Linked DNA regions of Homo sapiens. The protein of the gene in region 1 purifies or fractionates together with the protein of each later gene. This does not show direct contact. Each region holds a gene or a part of one and is shown on either strand. Other genes may lie near its edges.

Evidence for each region.
Region 2: the proteins of CMA1 (region 1) and FAT1 purify together in Homo sapiens (co-immunoprecipitation; 2 studies listed by BioGRID and IntAct, with this or other methods). This does not show direct contact.
Region 3: the proteins of CMA1 (region 1) and FRAS1 purify together in Homo sapiens (co-immunoprecipitation; 2 studies listed by BioGRID and IntAct, with this or other methods). This does not show direct contact.
Region 4: the proteins of CMA1 (region 1) and MANBA purify together in Homo sapiens (co-immunoprecipitation; 2 studies listed by BioGRID and IntAct, with this or other methods). This does not show direct contact.

What each region holds. Positions count from the first base shown.
Region 1 is NC_000014.9:24,505,257-24,512,525, forward strand, and holds CMA1 (chymase isoform 1 preproprotein), read right to left. Parts: upstream 3,010-7,269; 5' UTR 2,980-3,009; coding exon 2,922-2,979; intron 2,251-2,921; coding exon 2,100-2,250; intron 1,349-2,099; coding exon 1,213-1,348; intron 1,027-1,212; coding exon 772-1,026; intron 404-771; coding exon 260-403; 3' UTR 97-259; downstream 1-96.
Region 2 is NC_000004.12:186,587,845-186,594,869, forward strand, and holds part of FAT1 (protocadherin Fat 1 isoform 1 precursor), read right to left. Parts: intron 2,560-7,025; coding exon of another isoform or gene 2,524-2,559; intron 1,377-2,523; coding exon 748-1,376; 3' UTR 1-747.
Region 3 is NC_000004.12:78,052,741-78,060,342, reverse strand, and holds the start of FRAS1 (extracellular matrix organizing protein FRAS1 isoform 1 precursor), read right to left. Parts: upstream 3,021-7,602; 5' UTR 2,334-3,020; coding exon 2,258-2,333; intron 1-2,257. UniProt on the Homo sapiens protein: Involved in extracellular matrix organization. Required for the regulation of epidermal-basement membrane adhesion responsible for proper organogenesis during embryonic development. Involved in brain organization and function.
Region 4 is NC_000004.12:102,631,969-102,638,993, reverse strand, and holds part of MANBA (beta-mannosidase precursor), read left to right. Parts: intron 1-2,986; coding exon 2,987-3,129; intron 3,130-3,948; coding exon 3,949-4,206; intron 4,207-6,712; coding exon 6,713-6,937; 3' UTR 6,938-7,025.

The DNA.
Region 1 (7,269 bases):
CCTTCCAAATCCTTGGGTGCTTGGGCTGGGAATCAGGTCACTATGTGCAGGGAGAAGAGAGCAGCAGAGAGGGGACACACACTCACGACTAGAAGCTGTGTCTTCACTGAGGTTTATTGAGAGTTCTGTGACCTGTAGGATACTTCTGGAGGCTTAGGGTTGTGGCTGAGGGACCAAGGGTAGACCAGAATGAGTGGCACACACTTTGCTGCTCAGGTCCAGTTCCAGCTTCCCTTTCAGGCTGGCTCAGGATCCAGGATTAATTTGCCTGCAGGATCTGGTTGATCCAGGGCCGGTAATGGGAGATTCGGGTGAAGACAGCAGGGGGCTTTGCATCCGACCGTCCATAGGATACGATGCCCTGGGCCACCCCAGCACACAGAAGAGGGCCCCCAGAGTCTCCCTGTAGGGGGAGGAGAGAGAGAAGAAGGTGAGCCCGGGAAGTCCTCCACTCCTGTCTGCCAGCCAGCTTGGAGTCACAGTGAGACCTAAAGTCAGACGCAGGAGGTGGAGCTCCTCACTTATACATCTAGTTCTGATGCCCCTTCTTCCTTTCTTGGGACCGTCATCCACATTCTCCACATCACCCCATGCCCCCAGTGCAGTAGACTGGAATGGATGGTCAGAGGCTGTCTTGGACCACGGGAGGACAGCAATTCCTGTGATGCTCACCCTGTCACTGACTGACAACCTTCTGACCCCATCTCCTTCTAAGAGCATTCTGGTCCCTGAACAGTGAGTTTTGGAGAGGAAACCTAGTTGGAGGATCACCTTAAATGCAGATTTTGTCTTCCTGGGATTGCCCACACACAGCTGAAGATTGTGGTCAAAGTCTCTGAAGTGGCTGCAGGCCTGGGGATCCATGAGTCTCAGCTTCACCTCTTGCAGAGTGTCTGAGCCCGGCTTCAACACACCTGTTCTTCCCCAGCCAGCCACCCGGCACATTCTCCCAGGTGGGACAAAGTTGAATTGGGATGGGAAGGGGAGTGTCCCCACAGCCAGGGTCAGGCTGGCTTTCTCCTTCAACTGTGAAGGGAATGAAGGACTGTCAGTCCTCGAAATGGGCTCTGGACAGTTGGAGGTGATCAGGGAGGGACAGGGTGAGTAGCTTCATGTTATAGCCAAGTCCTAAGAAAAATTCAGGGCAATGAGGACCTGAAGGAGAAGCTTAGGAGAATGGGAAGTGGAAAGGGAGAAGAGAGGTGTTGTCACCTTTAGTAACATGATATCGTGGTGAAGAGTAGAAGTGTTATATTTTGGATGACGGAATTGCTTTATAACCTCAAGCTTCTGCCATGTGTCTTCTTCCTCTGTTATGTTATGGGCTCCAAGGGTGACTGTTATAGACCTGTTGTGAGGAAGAAGGAAGGAAAAGGAGCGACAGTGATGGCTTGGGGTTTCTTCTGAGGTGAGCTCATTCTGAGAAAAGAGGACTAAACTCTGTCACTGGGTCGCCGGACTCTACCCATCTCCCTTTTCATGGGCCACTTGTGGCATTTGAGGGCTCAGGCTTAACTCATGAAAGAGCTTTCTCAGGAAACAGACACAATTTCTACGACCCCTGGAATTGCTGGGGACTGAACAGGCCAGGGAGGACTCAGGGGACAGGGTTCACACTTCCTAATTCAGGGAACCCTGCATGAGGGCCAGCCCCTGAAGCAGGAGATATCAGTTAAACGGGAAAGTGGGGGTCTCATGTAGACCCTGTTCTCTGCCTCCCATAAAATGATGGGTTCAGGACCCTGAGAACTAGAGGCCAGTGTTCTTGAAAAGGCCATAGAGGAAGTGGCCCTGAGACTGGGTGGGGCCCTGAAAAGTGAGCCGTGTGTCTTGAGTTGGGTAGGGGTGAGGGGTGCTACTGCAACAAGAGGGACCTTGGACAGGACCTCCTTTTCCTCCGAAGGGGAGCTTAGCTCACAGTGACTGAGGCTCAAGGAACTATTCAAACACAGACTAAAGTCTTTCAGCCCAAGTCTTCCCTCTCCTGAAAGTTGACAAGACCCAGGACCCCCTCTTCAGTCCCCAGTGCAGGTGTATTCCTGGATGCTACTCTGGTTGTTCATCTCCCATTTGGAGATAAATAGACCCTGTTGTCTCACCTTCCTGCACAATGAGCAGCCGTCAGCACAAAGTTCCGTCTTATAAGGAAACCACCACAAAATTTTGAGGGACCGTTGGAAGTTACAATTTCCAGGTAGGCCATGTAGGGGCGGGAATGTGGCTTGCATTCTGTGCCCCCGATGATCTCCCCTGGAACAGAGCACCCCAGGGTTTGAACACGGCCATAGATACTCTCTCCAATGAATGGACAAATTGGGTTAAAGCTGAGCTAGGCTTCCCTGGAATCTCATTCTCACCCTGTGTTCCGCCCATCTTCCCTCTCCTGTCTCCTGTATTTCGTATCTTTCCCCACCCATAACCTCCCAGGTGAAATCTCATTCTTGCCTCTGCTCCATTCTGATGTTTTCATCTCAGACTTCTCCCACTCCCACCTTGCCCTGGCCCACCCTCCTCTGTCTCTGTGTAGGACCCACTGTCCAGGTTCCTGTTTTAGATTTCTCCATAGCTCTTGAGCATGGTCACAGAGTGAGAAAGTCACAAAGTAATGGGTAGCCCTGATGCTCAGAAGATTAAGAGGACATGTCTGTTTTCCTGGGGATACCCCTTTTCCTTCCACTTGCTCTGGGCTTTTCTACAATTGAGGTGAAATTCCTTGTTCCTGGGGGCTGTCCTAGGCTGTAGAGAATGGCAGTGGGTGGGGGTGGGGGTGGGGTGGCACACATCCCAAGTGGAAATTTCCCTCTGGGACTCTTGAAGAGAGATCTTGGAACCCTGTTTAGGAGTCAGCTATTTTCAGACTAAACATCTTTGTTTCAGGAGCTGATACTGCAGATTTCAGAGGGAAGAACCCTGATACTCACCAGCTTCAGCTCTGGAGCACAAGAGAAAGAGCAGCAGGGGGAGAGGAAGAAGCAGCATCTTCCCAGAGAGGCTGCCTGAGCAAATGCTGGTTTTCCTTTCCAGTCTTGGGTTTTATAACTCCCAGAAGGCAAGAGAGGGGCAAGGCTGGTAACCACAGGAACTGCATGGTCACGTTTTCTTCTCTCACTCTGAATTGGCTGTTTCTGATCAGAAGTTCCCCTAGAATCACCCAGTGTTTTTCTAGAAAGGAACTTGAGCCCTGAACTCCCAAGTGCTGGCTTCTCAGATGTACCCTCAACTATGGTGACTTTTCTGGAGTTGGGGGCAGGAAATGGAGGGACCATGTTTTTCTTTCCCAATTAGGGCAGCTTGTGAAAGGCCCACTGAACGTTCAGTGCAAAGACTTTTATGGCTATGTTCCATAGTCAGAAATGCATATTGCAGAGTCCCAGTGCATGCACATATGTATGTGTGAGTATGTAAGCACAAATTAAAGGTTTCAGGAAACAATCTTTATCTTAACCATGTGCAGTGTTTTCTGTTAGTTTCCATTCCACTCCACTCCACTCCATTCCACTACACGTCAAAACTTGAGCAACAACCCCATTTAAATGATAATTCCTTGTAATTTGAAAAACATTGACCTGGATCTCTCTCCTCCTCTGAACCACATGTTTTTGACAGAAGAGAGATCCAAGGAGGGTAGATGTGGGAAAAGAACAGACCCTAGGACAGAACTTTATGCAAAGAGCAATTGGGATTGGAATTAGCATTTTCTGAGAGTCTAGGTGTATCATATATTGTCACAACTCTTAGATATATTATTACTTTCACGGCAACCCTATCAATATGTATTACCATTATGATCATTATCATGTCATGATAGTCAATTTTTTAAATCAGCTATCATAGCTTATGGTTCAGAAATAGATTTTCCTGATATCAAATCAAGGTCCCTTTCTGCTCTAGCACTAGAGAGAAATAGAGGAATAGAGTCCTGCCAATGTGCAGGGGAAGTAAAGATGTAGAAGGGTGTTTGCTCCAGAGAGGTTGGGGTTTCCTACTGTTGCATTAAGAATCAAGCTTTCCACAACAACCTGGGGACACACCATTACTGTCACTTTACAATTGTAGAATTGATACTCAGACCCATTAACATGACAAAGATCACACACCTTATAATATCAGAAGTGGGTTTCAAGCACATAGCTTTTATTTTCCCTGGACTTACAGAAAGCAGTCCACATGGTGGACTGTCATTTCTCTTGGAGATTTATAAGGCATTTAGTTCAAAGACGGGGATGAGTAGTGTATAAGTGCCTTTCCCAAATCATCTCACTATGCCCTTGGTCTCAGGTTGGGCTTGTGACCAGAGTGATCCACTCCTTAGTATATATTGGCCAGGTCCTCTGTTGCTTTTAACTTAATTTCCCAAGTTCTACCTACAGCTCTAACTCTCTCTAGAATAAGACATTTAAACACATCCGTAATGTCTTTTCAAATCTGGTCTTCTTAAGTGTCCTTGTACCACTTTCTTCACTCTCTCGGGGGTTGCCAGAGAATATTCAGAATGCCCAGTTAAATTTGTATTTCAGATGAACAACAAATCATTTTTTAGTTAAGTATGTCCAAATATTGAATGGGACACACTAATACTAAAAAATTGTTGTTTATCTAAAATTTGAATTTAACTGGAATCCTGTATTTTTTATTTGCCAAAGTTGGCAACTCTTCTCTGGGCATTTCACCATTAACAGAACAGAAGAGAATCCGGAGCTGGAGAACTCTTGTCTTGTGGTCTTACATCAGTTAGACCAAAAAATCAGAGGCTTAAACAAATCAAAGCTGTTTGCTTTCACTGATATAATTAGAAATTGAGAGGCAGGTAGTCTGGGGCTAGTAAGACAGCTCCACAGCATCAAGATTCAGATCCACCAAGACTTAAGTTTTGCTCCACCTGCCTGGCTGAGGGTGAGGAAATGGAATAGGTATAGCCCCAGTCAGGGGACCAATTTCAGAAACGAGGACTGCGCTATCTGCTCACATTTCCTTCTTTGCTTTGTCATATGTATACCTGTGTATTTTAAGAGATTTCCTTTTTCTCTTTCTTCTTCCCCCTTTGGTTATTTTATATATAGCATGTTGGTAGTGAACTTTATGGTTTAGGGTACAGTTATCAAGTTGGGAGACTAGAGAATATCAAATTGAAAATGTGACCAAACTATTGTTGGAGCAGGTATCACCTAGAGACACAGTACTTGAAGTTAAAAGCAGTAACTGTTGAGACTGGGTTATTTCAGTTCTGCTGAGTCAAGTCTAATTTTCCTTTATATAAAAGATGGTAAAGATTATGTTCAGTGGGATAATTTTTGTTCTTGGAAACTTTAAGTGTGGCAAAAGAATGAATGTTGATGTGGGGCAACCAAGTGATGGATTGTAGTGGACATTTTCCATTTATATGGCTCCTTAATGTCTCTGGAACACCCTTCCTGTATTAGAGGAATTCCCAATGATAACTTTGCCTTACTAAGGTAGAATCCACAAACTTCCATTCCCAGTTTCTCTTGCATTTAGGTCATGTGACTTAGACTCTGTTAATCAGATAAAGGGGTGTACAATTTGACTTAGAAGGGAGTAACATGAGGGAGCTATTATCATGTGGAATTAATTCTTCTAGTGAGGGTGACTGGTAGAGGGGTCAGGGTTTGTGGAAATAATTGATGATTCAGATATCCAGTGCTGCCTAGAATGTTTGGGCCAAACAAGTGGTAGTAGGACCTTTGCTGCACAGTGTTATGGTGTATTTTGGACATTGCTTCTGGCTAGTTTGACTCTAGACATAATCCTACAGCATCTTGGGAAGCAGCTGTTGAGTATGTATAAGAAAGGACTTACTAACAATCTGTTGTTATAAAATAAATGTGTGGTTAGTGGAGGTAAGTGATTTCTCATTGCGGCAGATACTCAAGTAGAGGTTGAATCAAGTCTTGATTCACAGTTAGTAGGACAGAAAATTTGGGCCTGATGTAGAAGCACTGGCATTTAAATAATGGCAATGATTCCTTAGTAACTATAATGCAGAGGGATCATTCCTTCTCTGAGTTTCCAAACATTGTATTAACTGTGCTAGTATTCACTTTGACATTTAAGGCATGCAGTTTGCTCTGCAGTTAGATGGGGTGAGTTTGAATCTTGGTTCTGCCACTTAGCTATGTGTCTGAACTTAGGAAAAATTTTAAAGTTCTCAGCCTTAGTTACTGCATCCATAAAATATGAAGAATGATACAGTACAAGGATTTTTTTCAGAATTAAATATGATGCTCAATGTGAAATGCCACATGATTGGTTCTTAATAAACGTTGGTTTTATTCCTTTGTGTTTTACCTTGTGCTGCCATATCACCACTTGATGGATAATTGATAGATATATCCTCATTGGCTATAATTTTTTTGATGAAAGAATAAATCTTATACTTCCTCTAAATTCTCCTAAACACATTACAGATTAACATCTGTTATGGAATTTGGTTATTTCATGCTTTGCATGTAACATCTTTTTTCTATTCATTCATGTGCTGCCAGGCTGTTTATTATTCTCTGAGTAATGACTGTGTCTTTCTTGATTGAGCATTTCTATGCAACTTGTTTTAACCCTCGAGTTGGCAGGTATAAAACACCTAGAAACTTTTGTTGCAGTCTCTTCTAAAGAACTCCTGTGGGTCAGGGACAGCTGATGGCATGGGCTCATACTGAGCAGTAGTGCAGTGGAGCAGACAGAGTACATCCTTCATGGCACTGGCAGATTTTCCTGAAGCAGGCTGGAGCTCACTCTGTGTTTGCCCTCGCAATAAGTCCTGCCTGTTTCTATAGTTTCTGAATGACCAAGTTTTTCTGAATTTAAGGTTTATGTTTAATAGCTGCTGGCTTACATTAAACATCTATAAAGCAATTTAAGAGAATTACTTTCAAATTGATTTATTTTACGATACTCTTGCCTTCACTCCTAACACAATAGCTCACTTTTGAATTACTGCACTCTGCACAATATTTCTGAGTGGACAGTGTATCCAGGAGAATGAGATATGTAGAGATCCTTGGAGATTATTCCCAGTGTTGGGGCAGGAGGAAGATTTCTCAGCGTGTGTGTCCTTATTTCTTTTCCAGGCTCTTCAGCACAAACCTAAAAACATTTTGCTTTTTTAAGGGGTTCTTCCTAAGATTTCTCTTTCCACTCACCATTTCTGCAATGGGCTAATATTAAAGTAGGGAGAGTCTCTGAGGGTGCCCTTTATCATAAGTTTGGGCAAAGCTCTTTATGTGGATGGTTTCTGCTGTAGTCTCTGAGATG
Region 2 (7,025 bases), on another chromosome or scaffold:
TCATTAAAAACCTTTACAAGACCATTGCATCACAAATATACAGACACTATAAAAACTGTGTCATGGTGGTTTTGGTTCTAAACAGGTATGCAGAAGGTCCCCGTTACACTTTCCAATAATGAAAAATGTTTATAATTCTAAATACAGCAACCCATGTAAGACATGTTCATGTATCTGATCTCTCCTTCATCCTATGTACAGCTAGAAATGAATGACTACACTGAAATGTACTAACAAAATGTCACACTTCAGTGGAAAAAGACAGAATGAAACCCTGGTTATAGTAAAAAAAAAAAAATCAGGGTGCTAGATAATGGCACTGACACCACCAAAATTCAGTTGAAACAAATGCACAAAATATCTTGGAAATCTAGTTAAAACTATGAAAAATCAAATCTGTACATAAAATTTACAAAAAAAAGAGACAGGAAAATTAAAATAATCAAATCTATATAAATACATGAATCATGCTGACAACACAGGACTGATTTTTCGTTTGATTATTTTAACACAGACAGATGTAAATCCCAAAAGACGTTGGGAAATGGCACAGCCGATGAAAACCTCACGATGACAGTAGTTGGGACACTGGAAATGGCTAGCACGTCCAGAGGCGCAGGATCCAGCGCAGCCATGCCCATTCGGCTCACCAAAAAAAGCTTGGAAGCACTGCTGCAAAGAACAGCGCGGATTACTCACATCACCTCTAGGTTCACTAAAGTCAGGCACTTTGGGGGGAGTTGAGAGTCAGACTTCCGTGTGCTGCTGGGAATCCAGGGGCGGGATCGTCACCTCTTCGAAGTGGCCGTCGTCCCCGCTCTCATAGTCACTCATCATGACCTCGGACTCCACTTCGCAGCAGGCTGACACGTCAGAGCAGGAGGCGGTGGAGGCGTACACAGACATGGGCATGCTCTCGACAGCGGGCGCCTCGAAGTGTCTTTGATACCCTGGCGGGTAAGGGGCATGGGGTTCTCTACAAGTACTATTCTCACCAGTGCCTTTTGTTTGAGGTTCAGACATATCGAGGGGATAAAAATTGGGCAAATACTGATTCAAGTTGAACCTCTGCCGGTTTCTTGATGAAGAACCCAAGCTACCCGCGGCAGGCATGTCTCTAGGAGGGTGGATGGATTCAAACTGATTGCTGAATTCGGGCGGTAACGGTGGTAGCTCATCAGCTGCGGGGAAGTCTTCTGGGGGTGGAGGAAAATCACTTTCGATGTCGTAGCCTCCAGGGTAATAGTCCGTATCGATGGCGTTTGGATCTGCTGAGTACAGGGGTGTCTGCTCATCAATCACCTCATAGTTGGGGAACTCTTGTATGTCCGGCAGAGGAACGCTTGGCATCCAATCTGATGTATCCCAGTGATACCCTTGGTGGAAAAGAAAACAGATGTCAGTGTGTTTTCTCCTAAGCTTTTGTGCCATGGAAAGAGAGCTCAGTGTATCAAAGACACAAAGATGCAACCGCATTTATGCCTTCATTCAAAGTTCACCACTGGAAATTCCTCGTCTTTGCTTTGAAGACATCCCCCAACCCACTCCAGTTTAAAGACCCCTATGAACTAGGCTCTAGTTCTAAAATGTGGACTTACAGTTTTATGTACGCAACTAACATTCAAGGAAACAAAAGGAGTCCTAAGAGAAATGGGATGCTAGCATCTAAATTATATACATTTTTCTACAAATGATTCTAACCATCCTTCTGGCTTTTCTTCTGTAGAACCCACTGCTCTGTAGGAAGAAGAGTACTGATCCAGTCTCAGGACATTAGTGAAATATCCAGTGTCACTTGATCTGCACTACTTCTCATTAAAAAAATACTGATTAATGCAACTTAAAAAAATTTTGCATTTCTATTTTTTATAGAGACAGGGTCTCACTATGTTGCCCAGGCTGGTCTTAAACTCCTGGCCACAAACAATCTTGCCAATTCAGCTTCCCGAAGTGCTGGGATTACAGGTGTGAGCCATCAGGCCCAGCCAATGCAACTTTTTAAAGTAATAAAAGTAACCTTTAACATGCTAAAGTTTAGAAAATAAGCTTCCTTCATAATAATGTAGCAAGTTTAATATTAAAATTACTATTTTTCATTAACCCTCAGACAACAAATTAACTTAATATAGGTATGTATCAAAGCATGCCAATTCAAGCAAAATACAATTGAACAAGCGTTGCAAGATTATAACACAGCCTCTGATACACTGTAACAATCAATCTGTGTTACTTCCAAAAGGACTGTGATCCTTTTAGACTATATAAAGCACCACTATTTTAAAAAAAAACTTCCAATTTTGGAATAGTTTTTTTTTTTTCCTCCTTAGGATTTAAAAAATCCTTGGAGAGGCGGGAGAAGGTTAGGCAATCCGTGCTTCAAATGCAATGCGCACACACATGCAGCCGTGTACTTAGTTACTGCTGCAAACACTGGGCGACCCAGCGTAGTCAGTCAGCACTGGGGCAAGGCTTGACCCATTGTTTTTAGTGAGTATCAATGAATAACTGGCATGCATAAGTCACCTCTTGGTTTGCTGAGGTCAGGAGCAGCCAAAGATTCTTTTGGTGGCAGAGTAGAAAAAAAAGAAAACATTTGTAATTAAAACAGTCGGCTGAAAAGGCAATAAAGGTAAGTACACAGAACAATGAAAACTGCTTACAGAGGCCCAATCAGCCATACAGCATGTCCTTACGCCAGTATCTATGACAATTCCAAATGGCTGAGAAATGTATGTACCACAAATAAAATGGAATATGGAAGTGGAGGAAAGTGACTGCGGAATGAGGAACCAGAAATTTGGCCAGAAAACTCAAATATTACTTTCTTTTCCTTGTTTCTGACAATCACAGCCTGAAAACACAGAATTTCCTTAGGAATAATGAAAACAAAACAAACAGGCTCTAATAAAATATAAACTGATCAGATTACATAGGTGATAATCCAAATACATCTACAGCTACATAATGCACACACTTTATAGCACACTGCAACTTCAAAGGACATTAAATTCAGAGGAATTCATAGGCAAACTTAGATACTTAAAGACAGATGTACAAGCTGAAGATCTCTCCAAACTGTATGTATTTTGAATATGCTTTAATATTGACACTGTGAGCCATTCCCTAAAGAGACCACGGCTACACTTACCCCATGTCTGTAATTACACTTGCCCTGCCAGGGCCCCGCATCTATACACAGAAGCCCAGCAGGAAGTGTAACCAAACGCATGTAAATCCCACTATCAGTTAGGGCCATGAGACGCCTGCCCAGGCCCTGGCTAACCTTCAGGTTCTCTCTTTGAAATGGGGTGAAAATCCGTTAGAGTTGTTATGAGGATTAAACAGGATCATGCAGGTTAAGCACTGTTAGAAACTATCAATAACTGTGAAAGTAGACATCACAGCAGAAAAACGGTCACATCCGTGATTTTTTAAACAAGGCTTTCTATGCATTCAACAGTGTTATAATTTGGGACAAATATTTGATTGATAGTTCACTTCTAGAAATTTCAGTAATTTTAAAAGACTGTGGTGTCTCTAAAACATGAATACGCCGGCATTTAGGTAACATGTATCTACAGAATCATTTTTAAGTCTAGTAACAAAAGCAGCAATTCCTTTAAACAAAAAAAGATCAACAACTTTTGTTACGTAGGCACTAGTAATAGCTTTCAACTTTAAATTCCATGTGCACTTCTTGGATATGCCAAAAAATATTTGTCAATGAAGGAGACTGCAATGAAGGAACTGTTGAAATTCTGCTTCTATAAGCTTCAATAATATTTAAAATGCTGAAGGTCATCAGTTTAACACTAAAACTTCACTAGACAAAATACAGGTATGTTTCTGATTTGCCCAGTGAAAACATGGTACTTCTTAGGAAAAGAAGTGTAGGCGTCATCAGTAACTATAACCATGAACACTGGAGTATCTAAGCCTCTTCTGCCTGATAGCAAATGGGGCCCAGAGCTATCCTCCCTCCTCCTGAACCTTGACAGCATCATGTCCTAGCATAAAGGATCCCCCGAACTCTATGATGACGTCTGTGTACTCGATGGCCTCTGTAAGCAGTTCTCGAGTGGGATCTCTAGACCGGCACCATCAGAGCTACCTGGGAACTGGTGAAAAATGCAAATTCTAAAGTCCCAACCCAGACCTGTTGGATCAGAAATGCTGGTGCTGAGAACCAGCAATTGGGCTTTTAACAGCCCTCCAGATGATCTGATTCACATTACAGTTTGAAAAGTACTAGCCTGTGTCTTCCCCATGTGATGAATTTCAGTGCACTAATAAAGGGCTATTTTAATTTAAAATAATTTGGGGAAGGTGCTCAATGTCCTTTCTTACAACTCTGAGCAGATAAAGCTTCACATTAAATAATTTTCACTAAACCAAATATGAAAATATTCTTTTACCATGCTCTACACCCTTTTCTTTGATCATACTCAGGGAAAAACCAAAAGTGAAGAGTCAGTTACAGGTTAATTATGAAAGCTTTACATTATTCAAGTCTTATTCCTGTACATACGAAGAAGAATTTTTGTTTCAAAAAAATTTTAGGTAAAATTACTTCTGAACTTTTTCTTGATTGCACCACCTACAGATAAGCTCTCCAGATCTCATGTAAATCACTATGAATGGTAAAAAGGAACAAAGACATAACATACATTGAGATATTTTTTGCAAAGCACTCATATTACGTATATACACACCTGCATAAAATAAAAGGACTCAACCCCCTCAAAACCACAAACTGTTTTTTCCTACCATTGCAATAGCAATGCGGCCGAGCTCTACGACACGGCTGCTGCAAGACACAGACACAAGCACGAGCACTTACAACTGTACCTTCTGTGCTCACCGTGTCAACCACAGCATTGACAAGGTGCATTACGGTCACTATGGAAGCTTGCAAAAAGGTACAAAAGCAGTCAATTAGGAACATCTTCAGTTAGTTAGAAAACAGTGCATGAAATAAAGTTTTGTATTATACCATTTCTACCTCAGATTCCAACCGATGAGTGCTTTAATACAACCACATAATGATGCGTGGTCTCCTCACTGTTAGCTGTGTGTCTCAGAGACTTTTTTAATCGAGCTATATATTTGTTATTATTAATCAAAGGAATAACGTAAACATATTTTATTGGAATTTAAACAAAAAAACTTTTAGCTTTAAATTTTTTCACAATTACAATTATGCATCATGCCAGGCCAAAACGATTCTTATTTTAACATCTTACAGGCAAGACTCGACATTCCAAGACTACAGTCTGTGGTTCGCCACTCTTCCGGCTGCTTAATCACTCACACATTGTCCCCCAAAAAAAAGAAATTGAAGGAGAAACATATGCAATCTAAAACAAGAATGTTTTTGTCCCTGTTCTGATTGCTTTCCCTGCAAATTTCTCGTCTGTTTGCAGATGGACTAATCGCTGGTGAGCTAATGTACGAGTATAGGAGGAGACTCTGTCCGTCTGTTTCCTGTGTAAATTCCCTTTTCATTTGTGTATCAGATTGTTTTAAAATAACTATGCCAAGGTAAATATGTACGCATGTGGTAGGCAGAAGGCTGGCCCTCAAATAGTCCACGTCCTAATCCCAGGAGCCTGTGAATATGTCACTATACATGGCAAAAGGGACTTTGTTGACGCGGTTCAGATAAGGAAATTGAGATGAGGGATTTCCCTGGATTACCTGGGTGGGCCCAGTGTAATCATAAGGGTAACTTTTCTGCACAGAGGCGTTCCCAGTTACGGCTGGGGGGAGCTCTGCTGACAGAAGGGTGGTCAATGAAACACTGTGTTGCTGTCTCTGAGATGGAAGAAACCAAGAGCCAAAGAATGTGGGCAGCCTCTAAAAACCAGGAAAGGAAGGAAAACAGGTTCTTCCCTCGAGCTGCAGAAGGCAATGCAGCCCTACTGATCGCATGACTTAAGCCCTGTGAGACACAGGGGTTGGGCTTCTAAGCTACAGAATGACAGCAACACAAGTCTACATTGTTTTAGGCCACAAAGTTTGTGGTAATCTGTAATGGCCCTGGAAAACCGGGAATACGACGCAGGAACAGACTCTCAGCAGACTTTCAGTTTACAACTGATAATTACATTATGGTAATGAGTAAAATAAAAACACTCCTGTATATATGTTTTTTCTCTGCATTGTACTATCTGGAAGCTAGTTTTCATAACTAATTTGACCATAACTTATTGAAAGCACTTGGGACTATTTTTTTTTTTGAGACAGAGTCTCGCTCTGTCGCCCAGGCTGGAGTGCAGTGGCGTGACCTCAGCTCACTGCAAGCTACAACTCCCGGGCTCAGGCCATTCTCCTGCCTCAGCCTCCCCAGTAGCTGGGAGTACAGGTGCCCACCACCACGCCCGGCTGATTTTTTTTATATTTTTAGTAGAGACGGGGTTTCACTGCCAGGACGGTCTCGATCTCCCAACCTTGTGATCCGCCCGCCTTCACCTCCCAAAGTGCTGGGATTACAGGCGTGAGCCACTGCGCCCGGCCACCTGGGACTATTATTAAGAAGACTGATGTTCCAACAACAAGAACTAGAAAGAAAATGCTGATAAAATTCTGAAATGTATTTATAAAGAGCATTTAGGGGCCAAGATATAAATTATTACATAAACTGGAAACAGGAACTTCTTAGAATTAAAATTGATAAAAGACATAATTCTATCTTGTTGGTTTAACAAGCAAAGCTATGTCCATACACCCTATTCCTAATCAACACAGGTATATTTTGATACCATATATACGGTATCAAAATATACCTGTGTTGATTAGGAATAGAGTGTGTATATATATATATACTTGAAAGTATATATATATATATATATATATACTTGAAATCAGAAATGATAGCACATACTTATAGCTATCTTTAGTTTGAAAAATGACTGCAATAGATAATGACTATATGGATTTATGGACTATATGATGTATTATGGACTATATTACTCTGGATTGAATAATTATTAGTGGGGTTACCTTTTCCCACCAATAAAATATTT
Region 3 (7,602 bases), on another chromosome or scaffold:
ATTATTCTCTAGGCTGATAATAAAAACTTGAGGAGATTTCTAAGATCCTTGAGGTTTCCAACCTTGATCTCAATGCTCTTATTTTTTAAAGAAAAAGAAAACCTTGAGAGGACCAAACCAGAGGTCTCATCAGATGACAAATGTTTTTTTGTCTGTGGGAGTGATATCACTTAATTAAACTAATTAAATGAGATAAAGTATGTAAAGTGCTTAGCAAAGAGCCAGGCAAACAATACCTGCTCAATAAATGGCCATGTTCATTCATTCATTCATTCATTATTAGATAAGCACCATTATGACGTGGGTGGAAACTCAGACATCTATCAATTTATCAATCCAATTTGTGAAACAGCTATAGAATGCTCTGACAGTAAAGTCAAACAATAAGAAGCAAAGTTTCCAAAGACTCTTTGGAGTAATATCCACACCCTCTCTCCGCCCCCGCCCCCGCCCCCCGTCTCTACCCCCAGCTTTCTGTGCTTCACATCCCCCCATCCCCACCTCCCAGTCTAGATTCCGCACTTCTTAAACTTGGCCCACTGGATCAAGCAATCTGCCAAAGAGCGCACCCTGCAGGCTCTTAATAATAATGCCTTTTGTTGATTTCAGAGTTTTGGTTCCGACAAGCTGCACCATTCCAACTGCCCCCTGGTGAGCTATCCGGGAGTGATAGCACGTTTCCTGCGTTGCTGGGATAGGACTCTAAATTTTAAAAACTGCCACCAAGTGAAATTAATTTTTCTAAGTACCAAGTTCAGGTTTGGGTGGCCTGGGGTGACTCTCTCATCTGGTTTATTGTTATAATCAAGCCCTACAAGCTTTTTTTTTTTTTTTCCAAAGTACGCGCCCACACGCACATAAACAATAAAGTTATATTTCTACAGGACTTGCACTGTTGGGAGAAGGCTGCACAGGCCCCAGATGTGCCTTTCGCGGAGATTATACACACTTGACACACATCCCGGAAGAGTGCAGAAGGCAGCACCTGGACCCACGGGAAAGTCCCCCACCCTTGTGCGTGGATTCCCAAGGCCTTTCTCTTGGGAAGCCAGCAAAGAAAAGGCAGCTGCTCCAGTGACTGGAGGTCGACCCGAGGCAGAGCTTTGTCCTCCCCGGGCCTCCCGCAGCCCCCAGTCCTGCGCCAGAGCTCGACTCCCGGGAGCCGCCCCGCGCCCCTTCCTAGGCACCAGGGCGGAGAAGGCGGCCCGCCCTGCGCCCGCCGCCGCCGCCCAGCCGCGGCTCTGGTTTGCGGCTGGGCAGGTGAACTCTTCTTCCCGCAGCTGGATGAATAATGAATGGAGCCGGGAGGGGAAGCCGAGAGCCAGGCGCTGTGGATTAAGCCGTCTTCCTCCCAGCCCGCCGGCTCCCTTCCCCCTCCCTAAGCACTGGCGGGGCGACTTCCCTGGCTCCTCGGAGCAGGAGGGAGCTCACAGCGCCTCGCGTCCCCAGGCCCGGCATCCCATGACCCCAAACTCTTGATTTACTTATTGACTCATTTATTTGGCTGAGCCCGGATTGCATTTGATATCATGGCGACAACTAGTCTCACGGCTTCCTTTTCTCTCCTGCGGCTCCGGGGTTTTACAGGTAGCTTGGAGCCTCGGAGGAAAACCAGGAGGCGGAGGGTGAAGTAAAAGAATGAACCTAAACTCTTATTAACCACTTTTGTTCTGGGAAGCAGGCTGGTTCGTGCTTCTCCGTACTGGAGAGATTTCTTTCAGTGCAACTGAACTGCCCACGACCAGAACACGCTCCAACCAGTTAGTTATAAAATCCTAACTGGACTTTAGGGGGAGACTAACTGAGGTAAGGAGGGCGGGAGAGCGATGGGGCTTTAAGATGAAAGACTGTATGTTTCTTAGGAACAGAAGTATTTTTAAACAGGTAAGAGCAATTGTTCGCTCCTCACCTGTGCTCCATGCAGTTGCTTTCCCTTCGGGGAAAGGTAGGTGGTGGAAAGAAAAAGGATCAGTTTCAGAGATGTCACCTCCATCGGCCACCCACCCACCCAAAAGCACTTAGGGCAGAGAGGGAGGCCGTTTCGGGGGTGTAATCCGAATACAAAACAATCAGGAGTAGGAATCTTATCAGAAAAAGCCTATTCCAGTTTCACTTCCACCTCACCCTTCCCAGAAAAACTTCCACCTCACCGAAATACCATAAAACCTGCTGAGATTTTTAAACTGCACGATCACTCACACATACACACACACACGCACACGCACACACACACACACACGCGGCACCGCTCTCTCACCTTCGGAATGATGAGGCAATACTGCAAATTCCGCCAACGCTAGGGCCAGCCCGAGCCACACTTTGAGGACACCCATCGCCGCCTCGGCACCCACGATGGAGGAGCCCAGCCTTCAGCATCCAAGAAGCGGCTCCGCCAAAACGCTGGCTCCGGCGCTTGGAACCCGGGCGCACTGAAGGTGGGGGACCGCGGGCCTTTACCTCCGGGAAAAAGAGATGGACGGGCGGAGAGCGACACTCATCAGCCCGGAGGCGCCGGAGCGGGCTGGGGTTCAATTCACTCGCTGCTCAGGCAGAGAGCGCGCCGAGTTCCCCCGCAAGGCAGGACGCCAACGTGAGCTTTGGGAGAATAAGAGGAGGCAGAGCACAGTTCTCCGCGTCAAAATCTCGCCGGAAAGTTGCTGGTCACTGGCCGATGGGATCTTCCAGCATTTCCCTCGGGCTAGACCCTTCCGATCCCGGGTCCCCGACAGTGGAAATCCTGGCTCTGGTTTGTCCGAAGCAGCTTTTTAAAGTTCGCTTGGCACCATACGTCGGCGTTGCGTCGGCACCGCGGGTCGCCGGGAGCCCCGAAAGACCCACCCACACCCACTCCTTGGTCGAGCCACCCGGCTCGGCAGACCTCATCTGCCGGGGTCCGCTCGCTGGAAACTGTGCAGCGCTGAGGGCAGCTCCGGGGACTCGCCCGCCCTGCAGCCGCACCGCACCACACCGCCTCAGGCTGCGCTCCCTGAAGCAGACTGTTCGGAAGCTTCAGAGGAAAGACTGGGGGGCGCTGCTGCTACTTTCTCGTCCCCGCCCCTCGCCTGGGTGAGGAGGGCTGCGGGGACGCGGCTTGCTGCACACCAACACCCACCTCCGCGCTGAACACCCCGGAGGAGGTCTGCAGGGTAGAGGTGCAATGATTACGGGAGTGGAAGAAGAGCCATAATTTTAATTGCACGGAGGAAAAAGCTAGCGAGGCTGGAAAAGACCCCCAAACTCAAGGCCACTCTGGCGAGAGAGCCTGGAAACGCCCAAAATACGCCGGGTCTGGACCCCGTGTTTAAAGGACACACGTTCAGCCTTCCTCTAGTCTCCCTTGCCTCCTTCCTCTCTGCTTTGCTCGGTGTGAAAATGGACCCAGAGACTCGGAGCTTTGGCGAAATTCCAGAGAGTCACGTGGGGAAAGGGAGAAGCGAGGAGGGAGGTGAGGGGAGGCCGGGAGAGCAACCTGATCCCTTTATTCATTCTGCTGGAGTTCAGATTGGCTTTGTCTGGGGAGGAATCAAAAGTGCTCATACCGGGGACGGAGGGGGTGGAGATAGGTTGCACAGTTCTTGCTCAGGCACACCGGAAGGCAGATGAACCGTGTCCACATCCCTTGTTAGGGGAGGAACCGATTCGGCGGGCTGGGGGAGCGTGTGCCCACATCAAAGGCCCTGGGGCTACCTCCCACCCCCACAGCCCGCCACTCCTGCTGAACTAAGTGCGTCCGGGGGACCTGATTGATCCTTCTTCCTCGCTCTGGGACCCTCAGGCTGTTGCATCCTGGCTTTTACCAGCAGCCCGGGAAGATCTTGGTGTGTGTGTCCTAGGCGGAGCCTGAGAGCAAATGCACCTTTCCCTTTCCCTAGGAGACTCTGTCAGTGGAACACAACGCGGTCTGGGAGCTGTGGGTCCAGCTGCGCCCCCAGATGCCAATGGCTGGGAAAGTAACATCAGGACACGGCCGACTGGGGCGCGCACTTGAAGAGCAGAGGCCTTGATTCCCCGCCAGGACTGACTGACGGCAGCTATTTTTATAGGACCGAATAAAAATAGCTGGTCCACGTTTAATCGTTTTATAAGGGAACAGTTGCATCAGAGAGATGCTGACTGGGTTCTGATTGGCCCAGAGAAGAAACGTCTCGGGTCCCTCAATTGAGTCGGGATGGGCGAAACTGTTGGAGGGGAAGCAGTTGCATGAGCTGTGCTGGCGGGGGTCCCACTTGTTTCCAGTCTTCACGAACACCATGACGCGGGCCCACGTTCTAACGTGCACTGACGCCACTTGGAACAATTCACTTTTCCGAATAACTGGAATAACTTGAAACTGGCAGGTCCCTGTCAGTGTTACTATTCAGCCAGAACAAAGGAGAACCTCTGACAACCTGGCTCTGAATCTTAAGTATTTGGAGGACCCAGGGTTTGCACATTTCGCCCTCAGTCTCTCTGTTGGGCTGTGGTCATTCTAGGGACAGAGGTTGTATCATCTTTGTATAATTGAAGCACATAGTAGGTGCTCTTTAAACATTTGTTGAAATAATGGATTAAGTGCCTGAGAGCAGCGGCCATATCAAGGGGAGCTGCGGGCCTTAACCTCCTCCCAAAAAAAGACCCCTCCCTTTTTATTTAGAAAGTAGGGCCTGTGCGGTGGCTCACGCCTGTAATCCCAGCACTTTGGGAGGCCAAGGCAGGCAGATCACGACGTCAGGAGTTCGAGACCAGCCTGGCCAACATGGTGAAACCCCATTTCCACTAAAAATACAAAAATTAGCCACGTGTGGTGGCACATGCCTTTAATCCCAGGTACTCTGAAGGCTGAGGCACGAGAATCACTTGAACCCGGGAGGCAGAGGTTGCAGTGAGCAGAGATCTCACCACTGCACTCCAGCCTGGGTGACACAGCGAGACTCTGTCTCAAAAATAAAGGTCGGGCGGGGCGGGGGGGTGGAGGACATCTTCTCAATCCATGTAAAGTGATGTGCAAATTCAAACTCAGCTTCCAACACACTCTGACAACCAGACGGTCACCCTTAAACCCCCTCCTAATTTTGCAGCTGCTACTGAATGGGAGTAACTTAAACCGTTTGTTCTCTCAAAAATCAACAATTTGATTTTATTTTAAAAATCAAGCTGGGTGCAGTGGGGTGCACCTGTAGTCTCAGCTACTCCAGAGGCTGAGGCGGGAGGATCACTTGAGCTTGGAAGTTGGAGGCCATGGTCCACCCTGATTACGCCTATAAATAATCACTGCACTCCAAAAATCATACAATTATGGCACAGGTCTCAATAAGATATCTGTTATACTTGCTAATTGCAAATATGCTACTTTTCAAAAAGGAAAAGCAATAAATAAAGGGAGAATAGCACTACCAAGTTACCCTGAATTAATCATATGCTGTATTTATTGGATTTATATATAACATCCCCCCTTGACCACCAGTCCACCACAGGGGCACATGCTGGCCCACTCACATAGTCCTCCCTCTGCCCTAAGTAGTCAAGGGAGAAGGCAGCCTGAGTCCTTGCCCTAAGATCACTTGGAAGAGCAAAGGGTCAACCAATATTTCTGTAATATTAGGCATATCTAACACCTATGTTCACTTCAACTGAAATGTTGGAAAAAGAGATTATATAAACCTAACATATTTCATTATGATGAAAATTTAGTAAGCATGTTTATGGAGATGCACCTAATCATAACTAGCTTATCTCTATAAGTTAACCTCCACAAATGACAGCTTCATGCTTCCTCATAGGAAGTTGGCAATTCACTAGCCAGAGATATTTGGGTCTATATCTTCAGTCCTCTTTAGTTACAAGTCCAGATTCCACAACTTTTGTTAATATGTTCCACAATATCTCCTTGGATCAGCCCTGCTGTCATCTCTTCACAACTCCCTGTCCTTGTTGCTGCCCATTTTGGGGAATTTATTTATCAACTCCTGCTGTAAACGATAATAATAACAATGATAACACATATTGAATATTTTGTGCCTAACACTGTACACTTTCTCATGTAATCCTCCAATAACCACGTGAGATAGGTGCTATTATTATTTCCATTGACAGGTGAAATAACAGATGTTCAGAGAGTTAAGTAATCTATCCAAAGTCAGACAGCTAGTACCTGACAACGCATATCAGAGCAAGAAATTCTAGCTCTCATAACAGGCAAACTCCCAAATCACAGTATCTTAACACAAAAAGAGTTTATTTCATGATCACATCTTGGCCCCTGGGAATTGGTGACTCCTTCTAGTCAGGCCATCATGAAACATATGACACCCATGGCTTCTGCATGGGGTAATGAAAGAGGCATTGCAAACTTTAAGGGCCTCAGCCCTTCCTGTCACAGTTCAATGACAAGAATGAGTATTGTGACCCCTATCTACTTACAAGGGAGGATAGGACACATAGGGGAAGACATATCTATTTAGTGAGCACTAACTGTACTGCTTTACCCTAGCACCCATGCTCTTATCTAGCTTAACTGTCCTTAGTTATCTATCTATCTATCTATCTATCTATCTATCTATCTATCTATCTATCATCTATCTGCCTACAGTTAACTATCTTAACTGTCCTTACCAAGGCCCCAGTTGCACATTCCCTGATGCCACCAGGGCTCTGCTGACCTTTATTACAACTCCTCTACAGATTCAACAGTCTGCCTTTGCTCTGCTTTCCTGCTCATCTGCTTTCCTGCTCATCTGCTTTGCTCTTTTTACTCTTTCTCCCTCCCATCTCCCTTTCCTCTGCTTCTCACTGTCTTTCTTCTGCATAACCCTACTCTGTGTGTTGAGTCTTCTATCACATCTTTCTCCTGTACGTGCCTTCTCTGATCTTCTTTCAGTTGCCCTGGGAGTGTTCTTGCAGTCGTAGTGCATTTGTTCTGCTTTGTGCATTCCAGCATGCGACAATATTTATTGCCTTTTTTCTGCTTCAAATAGTTATTCCAAAAAAGAATATTCAAATAATACAGAAATATAAACTGATTGGCTCTGTTATAATCTAGCCCCTCTGCAAGGATAACCACAGCATATACATTCAGAGATTTTCCCCTGCTTAAAGATAATTCCTTTTACAAAAATGGGATTATAACTTACATGCTATTTTATAACTTGCCTCCCGCTCTGAACAATATACTGTGCTATAGGCAAGCCACAAGTTTCCAAGCCAAATCATATTGATCTATGTCATTATTTTTAAGAGCTGCTCTGGTTAACATTGTATTGATATGTCTATTTCGCCAATCCCCTTTTGAAGAACGTTTAGATTGTTTCCAATTTTTTGCCATTGTAAACAATACAACACTAAATGTCCTTATAAAAGCCCTTTATGTACTTACCCAATTTATTTCCCCGGAATAAACTTTTGTAGGTGAAACTGCTGTGTCAAAGCATGAATAAAAACTTTTGTAGGTGAAATTGCTGGGTCAAAGCATGCTCATTTATCATTTTGATCTGTATCATTTAATCTGCAAATCGCAAAAGATAAAATAGCACTTTTCTGAACACCACTTATTAGCTGTGTCCTCAGGCATTTTAACCTCTGAGCCTCGGATTCCCTGTCTATAAAATGGACATTATGATAGTGCCC
Region 4 (7,025 bases), on another chromosome or scaffold:
TAAAGAATAGTTTGGGGTCAAAAACGAGGCAAGGCCACAAAGTAGAAAGGTTGGGTGAGGTTCTTTTTGTTTTTTTTGAGACAGAGTCTTGTTCTGACACCCAGGCTAGAGTGCAGGGGTGAGGCTCTTAAACTGGCTGTGAATGCAGATCAAAAGAAATTCATTCCAAACATGTTTTCATTAGTGCCAGATGGATGACTCTTACAGAGAATTGGATTTCTAATCAAATTTCTCTGACCAAACTCTTTATCAGCACCAACCAGATAAGAGAGCATTGAATGAGAATCAGGGGTAGAATTGGGGGGAAAATCCTTCTGGGATGCTGGAAAGGTAGGCAAAGAGATAACTGTTCAGAGACTCTTGGATACTGATCCTGCTTTCTGTCTGTGGATGAGGTTGTGGACTGAAACTGAGTTCGATTCAAGAAATGGGAGAGCCCAATTTTTGTAAATATTCCTTTAAGTGATCCCATGCAGATTATTCCTGAGTTCCTCAGGAAGAGTAGGTCTGTGGGAAACAAGACACTCAAACTCTAAGTGGTTTTTTGTTTTGTTTTGTTTTTTTGTTGAGATGGTCTCACTCTGCTTTTGCCCAGGCTGGAGTGCAGTGGTGCAATCATGGCTCACTGTAGCCTCCACCCCACAGGCTCAAGCCTTCCTCCCACCTCAACTTCCTGAGTACCTGGGTCTATAGCTGCATACCACCATGCCTGGCTCATTTTTGTATTTTTTTTCTGGAGACAGGGTTTTGCCATGTTGCCCAGGCTGGTCTTGAACACCTGGTCTGAAGCAGTCTACCCTCCTCAGCTTCCCAAAGTGTTGGGATTACAGGCATGAGCCACCGCACCTGGCCTAAAAGTGCTTTGTTAATTCCCTCACTCCACAACAACAATCCACACAGAAGACTTCTGTGACCAAATATATGGGAAACTTCCCCCACACACCAAGCAAGCAATCACTTCTGCAGTGGACACCATGCGAGTGCCCTCCAATTTAAGTCTGACACTATCTACCTGCAGATTGCATCAGATTCCATAGGTTGAGAACTCAGTTCCACAAAGCTGCCTTCCCTCTTTAGACAGCAGTCGCAAGTCTGGGCCTCTAGAACTTCTGACTGACCAGCTTCAAGCTGGGGTTCCCATGACCCCTTCTTTGGGTTTAATTTGCTGGAATGGCTCACAGAACTCAAGGAAACATTCTAACTGCTGTATTACAGAGGATGTTTTAAAAGACACAAATAAACAGCCGTATGAAGAGATATATGGGGTGAAGTCTGGAAGGGTCCTGAGTGCAGGAACTTTATCCCTGTGAGGCTGGGGTGTGCCACCCTCCAGGCATGTAGATGAATACTTGTTCCTCTTTCTGTCAGCCTTCACATGGTCAGCTATGTGGAAGTTCTTTGAACTCTGTCCTCTTGGGCGTTATAGGGAGACTTCATTGGACAGCCATGATTGATAACCATGTAGAAATGTGATTGGACAAAGCGGGTATGATCTAATACCATTAGACTGAGTGGGGAAACACAGCAAGGCCTGTCCATTCAGCTTCTTGGCCTCTCTGTGAAGCATTTCCTCCTCCAGGGTATGAGGCAGGACACCTTCTGAATGAGTGTCTTATGACCCACAATCGGATTAGAGACCTGCCTTGGGCTGGTGAAAGGAGGGAAGGAGATCAGAGAGATAGATTCTGTTTTCTGAGGCCTGCTTTTGAGTCCTAAAGCTTCTCAACATTATAACAAGAGTCTGTAACAAGGGCTATGGTAGTTGTGAGCTAGGAACCTGTATTAGTCTGTTCTCATGCTGCTGATGAAGACATACCTGAGACTGGTAATTTGTAAAGAAAAAGAGGTTTAATGGACTCACAGTTCCACATGGCTGGGAAGACCTCACAATCATGGCAGAAGACGAAGGAAGAGCAAAGGGACTTCTTACATGGCAGTGGGTAAGAGAGGACTTGTGCAGGAAACTCCTTCTTTATAAAACGATCAGATCTCGTGAGACTTATTCACTATCACAAGAACAGCATAGGAAAGACCTGCCCCCATGGTTCAGTTACCTCCTACCAGGTCCCTCCTACAACACATGGGAATTGTGGGAGCTACAATTCAAGATGAGATTTGGGTAGGGGCACAGCCAAACCATATCTAACTGTAGAAGAAAAATTATATATGTATATATAATAATATTACAGTAGGAAAACCCAAGTACCAGAGCTTGGCTGTTTTCTAAACCCTGGCAGGATCCTGCCTGCCTGAGGAGGATCACCAGCTCCTTGTACTTATTAGACAAAAAGGTTATCCGGGAGAAGCTGTGACAAGTTTTCTATATCTGCTTCTGCTCTGGGGGCCTCACAGCCCCATGTTGATTGGCTCAATAAATCCACTGCTTCTAGTGCGTGCAGTAGGGGAGGTATTTGTTATCTCTTATCACCCGAAATGGTTATATATTAAAGCAATCAATAGCTACCTAGAATCTATAAGTTATTATATACAGTCATGCACCGTATAACATTTCAGTCAACAACACAGTTCATATATGATGGTGGTCCCATGAGATTATAATACTGTATTTTCACTGTCCCATTTCTATGATTAGAATTACCTACAGTATTCAGCACAGCAATATGCTGTACAGGTTAGTAGCCTGGAGCAACAGGCTATACCATATAGTCTAGGTGTGTAGTAGGCTATACCATCTTGGTTTGTTTAAGTACACTCTATGATCACACAATGATGAAATTGCCTAACAGCATGGTTCGTTAATGCCTGCCCTGGTTCGTTAGTGCCTGCCCAGATGTTGTGAGGGTGACATGACATAATGTCCAGAGTGCTCAGAGCGCTTCACAAACATGGGTGCCCTCCACTGTTGACTCTCCCTCACATGCTCACTCCCTTAGAACCCCGATGAGCCACAAACAGCTGGGCCATTGGACAGTGCCTCTCTGACTACTTGACCTTGCCGTCTCCTGACACTCTTGATTATTTTCAGAGTACGGAGGAAAGTGGAAAATGCTTCATTACTTTGCTCAGAATTTCTTTGCTCCACTGTTGCCAGTAGGCTTTGAGAATGAAAACACGTTCTATATCTATGGTGTGTCAGATCTTCACTCGGATTATTCGATGACACTCAGTGTAAGTTACTTGGATTGTTTTCTAAGATCGAAGGAGACTTTTAGATGATTTCTTTAGTTGTTTGGTTACATTCTTTTGGGAAAATAAAAGAGAAATTAATTTAGAGTTAGAATACATATATTCAGGCTACAACCCTGCCATTAATCATGTGACCATAAGCAAAACCCTTCACATCTTGTTGATTCAATTTCTTCTCAGTAAAATGATACCAGTCTCTCTTCTTACAGGATTTCTATGAGTAGGAAATAAAATAACTAGATGAAAGCAAATCACATATGCTATAATGTGCCCCTTAAATGCAAGGTTATTTATAATTGTGAGAGGCTGGAAATAGTCCAAACTTTATAAAAAGAAATGGTTAAAAATGGCATGTTATAGTGAAAATCAGTAAAACTATTCAGAATGCGCATGTGGAAAGCAAATTTGTTTTAAAAAACAAATTTAAGTAAAAAGAAAGGCTAGAAACTCAAAGTCTTAGGTGGCTATAGTTTGGAGGACACTAATAACACTGAAAATAGGTCACATTTACAGAAAAATTACAACGCACCAGGTACTGTGCCTTCCGTGGATTATTTTTTAAATTCTCACAACAGCCTGTGACATTACTGCTGTTATTTTCATTCTACATATGAAGAAATGAAGACTGAGAAGTTACTTAGTCACATAGCTAGTATTTTGCAGGACTGGGATTAAAACTCAGGTTTCATAGTCTCTTAACCATTTCTGCTAACCTGACTTTCAGCAATTATTACTACTATTGTTCCTTAAAAACATAGCAACCAAGAATGCCTGTTTTTATTCTGTTTTATTTCTCCCCAGGTGAGAGTCCATACATGGAGCTCCCTGGAGCCCGTGTGCTCTCGTGTGACTGAACGTTTTGTGATGAAAGGAGGAGAGGCTGTCTGCCTTTATGAGGAGCCAGTGTCTGAATTGCTGAGGAGATGTGGGAATTGCACACGGGAAAGCTGTGTGGTTTCCTTTTACCTTTCAGCTGACCATGAACTCCTGAGCCCGACCAACTACCACTTCTTGTCCTCACCGAAGGAGGCCGTGGGGCTCTGCAAGGCGCAGATCACTGTAAGCACAGGTCATGGCGGAGGGCAGGGGACTGTGGCCTTGTGGGGTTCTCCTGCTCTTGGGCCAGCTCCTTGCATCCTGAGATTTGCATGTGTCCCCCTTGGTGCTGAGTTTACCTGAGGCCTGGGGGAAGATTGGCCTCTTCCCACTAAAAGCAAACACCAAATGATTTCTATTTCGAATCCAGGATTTGTCAGAGTTGCTGGTGACCACTACTCGTTTGTCCCATCACCCCTCCTTAGTGGGCAGGTGCAGTGATGGGAGAGGAAGCTCGAGTCATCACCACTGCCTGCATGCCCACTAGGTTCCAGGCTGTGTTCTAGGTGCTTCACCTCATAGTCTCTGACTTTCACCACAGCTCCAGGCATTATCATCTGCATTTTGTAAGTTTGGAAGCCAGTTTAGGAGGTTAAGTGATGAGCTCGAGGTCCTGTAGCTGGGAAGCATTGGAGCCCAGCTGACGCAGTCTAATTTTAAGTAGAGTCTATTAATATTCACTCTAGTCTCTTTGATTTATTGCTTCAAAGTAGCTCAATCACCAAATCTTTTTATAATTGCCAAGATATAAAAATGGGATGATCAGGATGTGTTGTTATAAAAATTGTGCAGCTGGAGAATTTGGAATTTGTCTAGTAGGTTGAAAACCTTTCCTTCCTTCTCCCCTACACATAGCAGTTGGAAATATATGTACACATATATGTTTTTAATTTTATTATCTTATCTTCTGGACACTCAGGAAATATCTTTCTAGAAAGTTACATTCTCTGTTTTTAGAAAATTTTAAATTTGTTTTACACTTTTACTTCATAGAAAGGGATTTTCTACATTTAATTTAGAAATAATCATATAAAAACACCTAATTCTTGTGTTTTATTTGAAAGAGCCTAACAACTGAAAACATACCTTCTTTCTATAGTCACATAATAAAATCCAAGTTATCTGTAACAACTAATAGAGAACAGAAGAAAATGACAGTCTTACATATATTTTTTTCCAAAAAAGAAAAAAAAAACCACTATGTACTGGATGAATTTTCAGTCTCTAAACTTATGATTTTGAAAACCAAATTTTTTTCTTTCCTGAGTTAGGCCTTCATTACCTTGAGGTGGGTAATTGGGGTGGGAGAAAAGCAGGGCTCTTTCTTTGTTCTATCTCATTTTGATTTCAGTGAGACTTGTCCTTCTTAAAGAGATAAAATGATAGTAATAATACTGTTAGTTAATGTTTAATTCGGGGCTAATATAGACTAGGTATTTGGCTTCTTTTCTCAAGGGAGATGCCAGAAACTTGTTCTCCCTGTCTCCCTGAAGCCAGGGTGCAAGCTTGAATCCCAGGCTCTGCAGTCAGACATACAGAGAGGAGATTTCCAATCCAACGAAGATAACCAGCATAAGCATGACACCAGCATCTCTTTCGGCCTTGGTCTTGGAGCAGCAGAAGCTGATGCTACCCTGGCAGCTTCCTGGGCAGGCTGGCATGAGCCGCATGAACCTTGTTCCTGTGGCTGCTTTAGGACCTTCACTGGAACAGCTGGGCGGTGCGATCTGGGAATTTGCCATCCAAATTCAAGCCTGAGTCTCTGATCCTGAAGAGCAACCTGATACGCTTTATTAAGCTTCTTTTCTGCTTCTATCAATATAGGTTTCCTTGTGTATAACTCAGAACCCTGAATGATAACATATTACACAAATATGTAAGGCTAAATTATATATAGTGAAAATGGCCCTTTGAAATTCTTTATGTCACACATAACATATAATGTAAGACTGAGATGTTGCATGACAAATGCACAGATTAAGAAACCAGGTTGCACTCAGCTCCGTGCTCACACAAAGAGAGGTTTGCAAACCCTCCCACTCTGGGGAGCAGCGCATCCTCACTCTGGGCATATGCTATTCGGCTACTTAAGAGGAATGGAGCCAACACGATTTAAATTGCACTGTCTCTTTTTGCTGCTATTTTGTGGAATTCACACATGTAAAAAAAATGCTAATAATGTGACTTTACTTAACTATGCAGTAAAAGAGATAAGCTCTAATGGTAGAGCTTTTGTAAATTTCTGGCAGTGGACTTTCTAGATTGCTGGATCTTTTCAGGAGACTTGAATGTAAGCTCCACAGTTGGGCTCTGTAGCTAGGTCCAGATATATCCTTAGAAAGTCATTAAAACCACCCAGGCTGTATGTAAAAATGTTGCTCTCTTGATGATACTCTGAGAAAAACTGTAAAAGATGTAAAGCTTTGAGCTTCTTGTGAAATATTCTCCTTAATGATTGGAGACGATGTATTTCCTTGATTTGTGATTATAATTTGGTAACGTTCCATAGCCTGTAGTCATTTTCCATGTATTGTTTTGTGTTTGAAACTGCACTTTAGCAGTTGTAGAACCAAAGTTGTGGGAAGTGGACTCCTTGTTAAGCCCACATAAATGTTTACAGGAACTGTATACAGACTATATAACTCTTCCCTCATCCTTCACTTCATTCATTTTTTTTTTTCTTTTTCAGGCCATCATCTCTCAGCAAGGTGACATATTTGTTTTTGACCTGGAGACCTCAGCTGTCGCTCCCTTTGTTTGGTTGGATGTAGGAAGCATCCCAGGGAGATTTAGTGACAATGGTTTCCTCATGACTGAGAAGACACGAACTATATTATTTTACCCTTGGGAGCCCACCAGCAAGAATGAGTTGGAGCAATCTTTTCATGTGACCTCCTTAACAGATATTTACTGAAGGAATCTAGGTTGTATTTTCAGTGGACAATGGGAATAAAGCATTTCTAAAGCACCGACTGGAGAGGAAGGCAACAGAGACAAGGAGA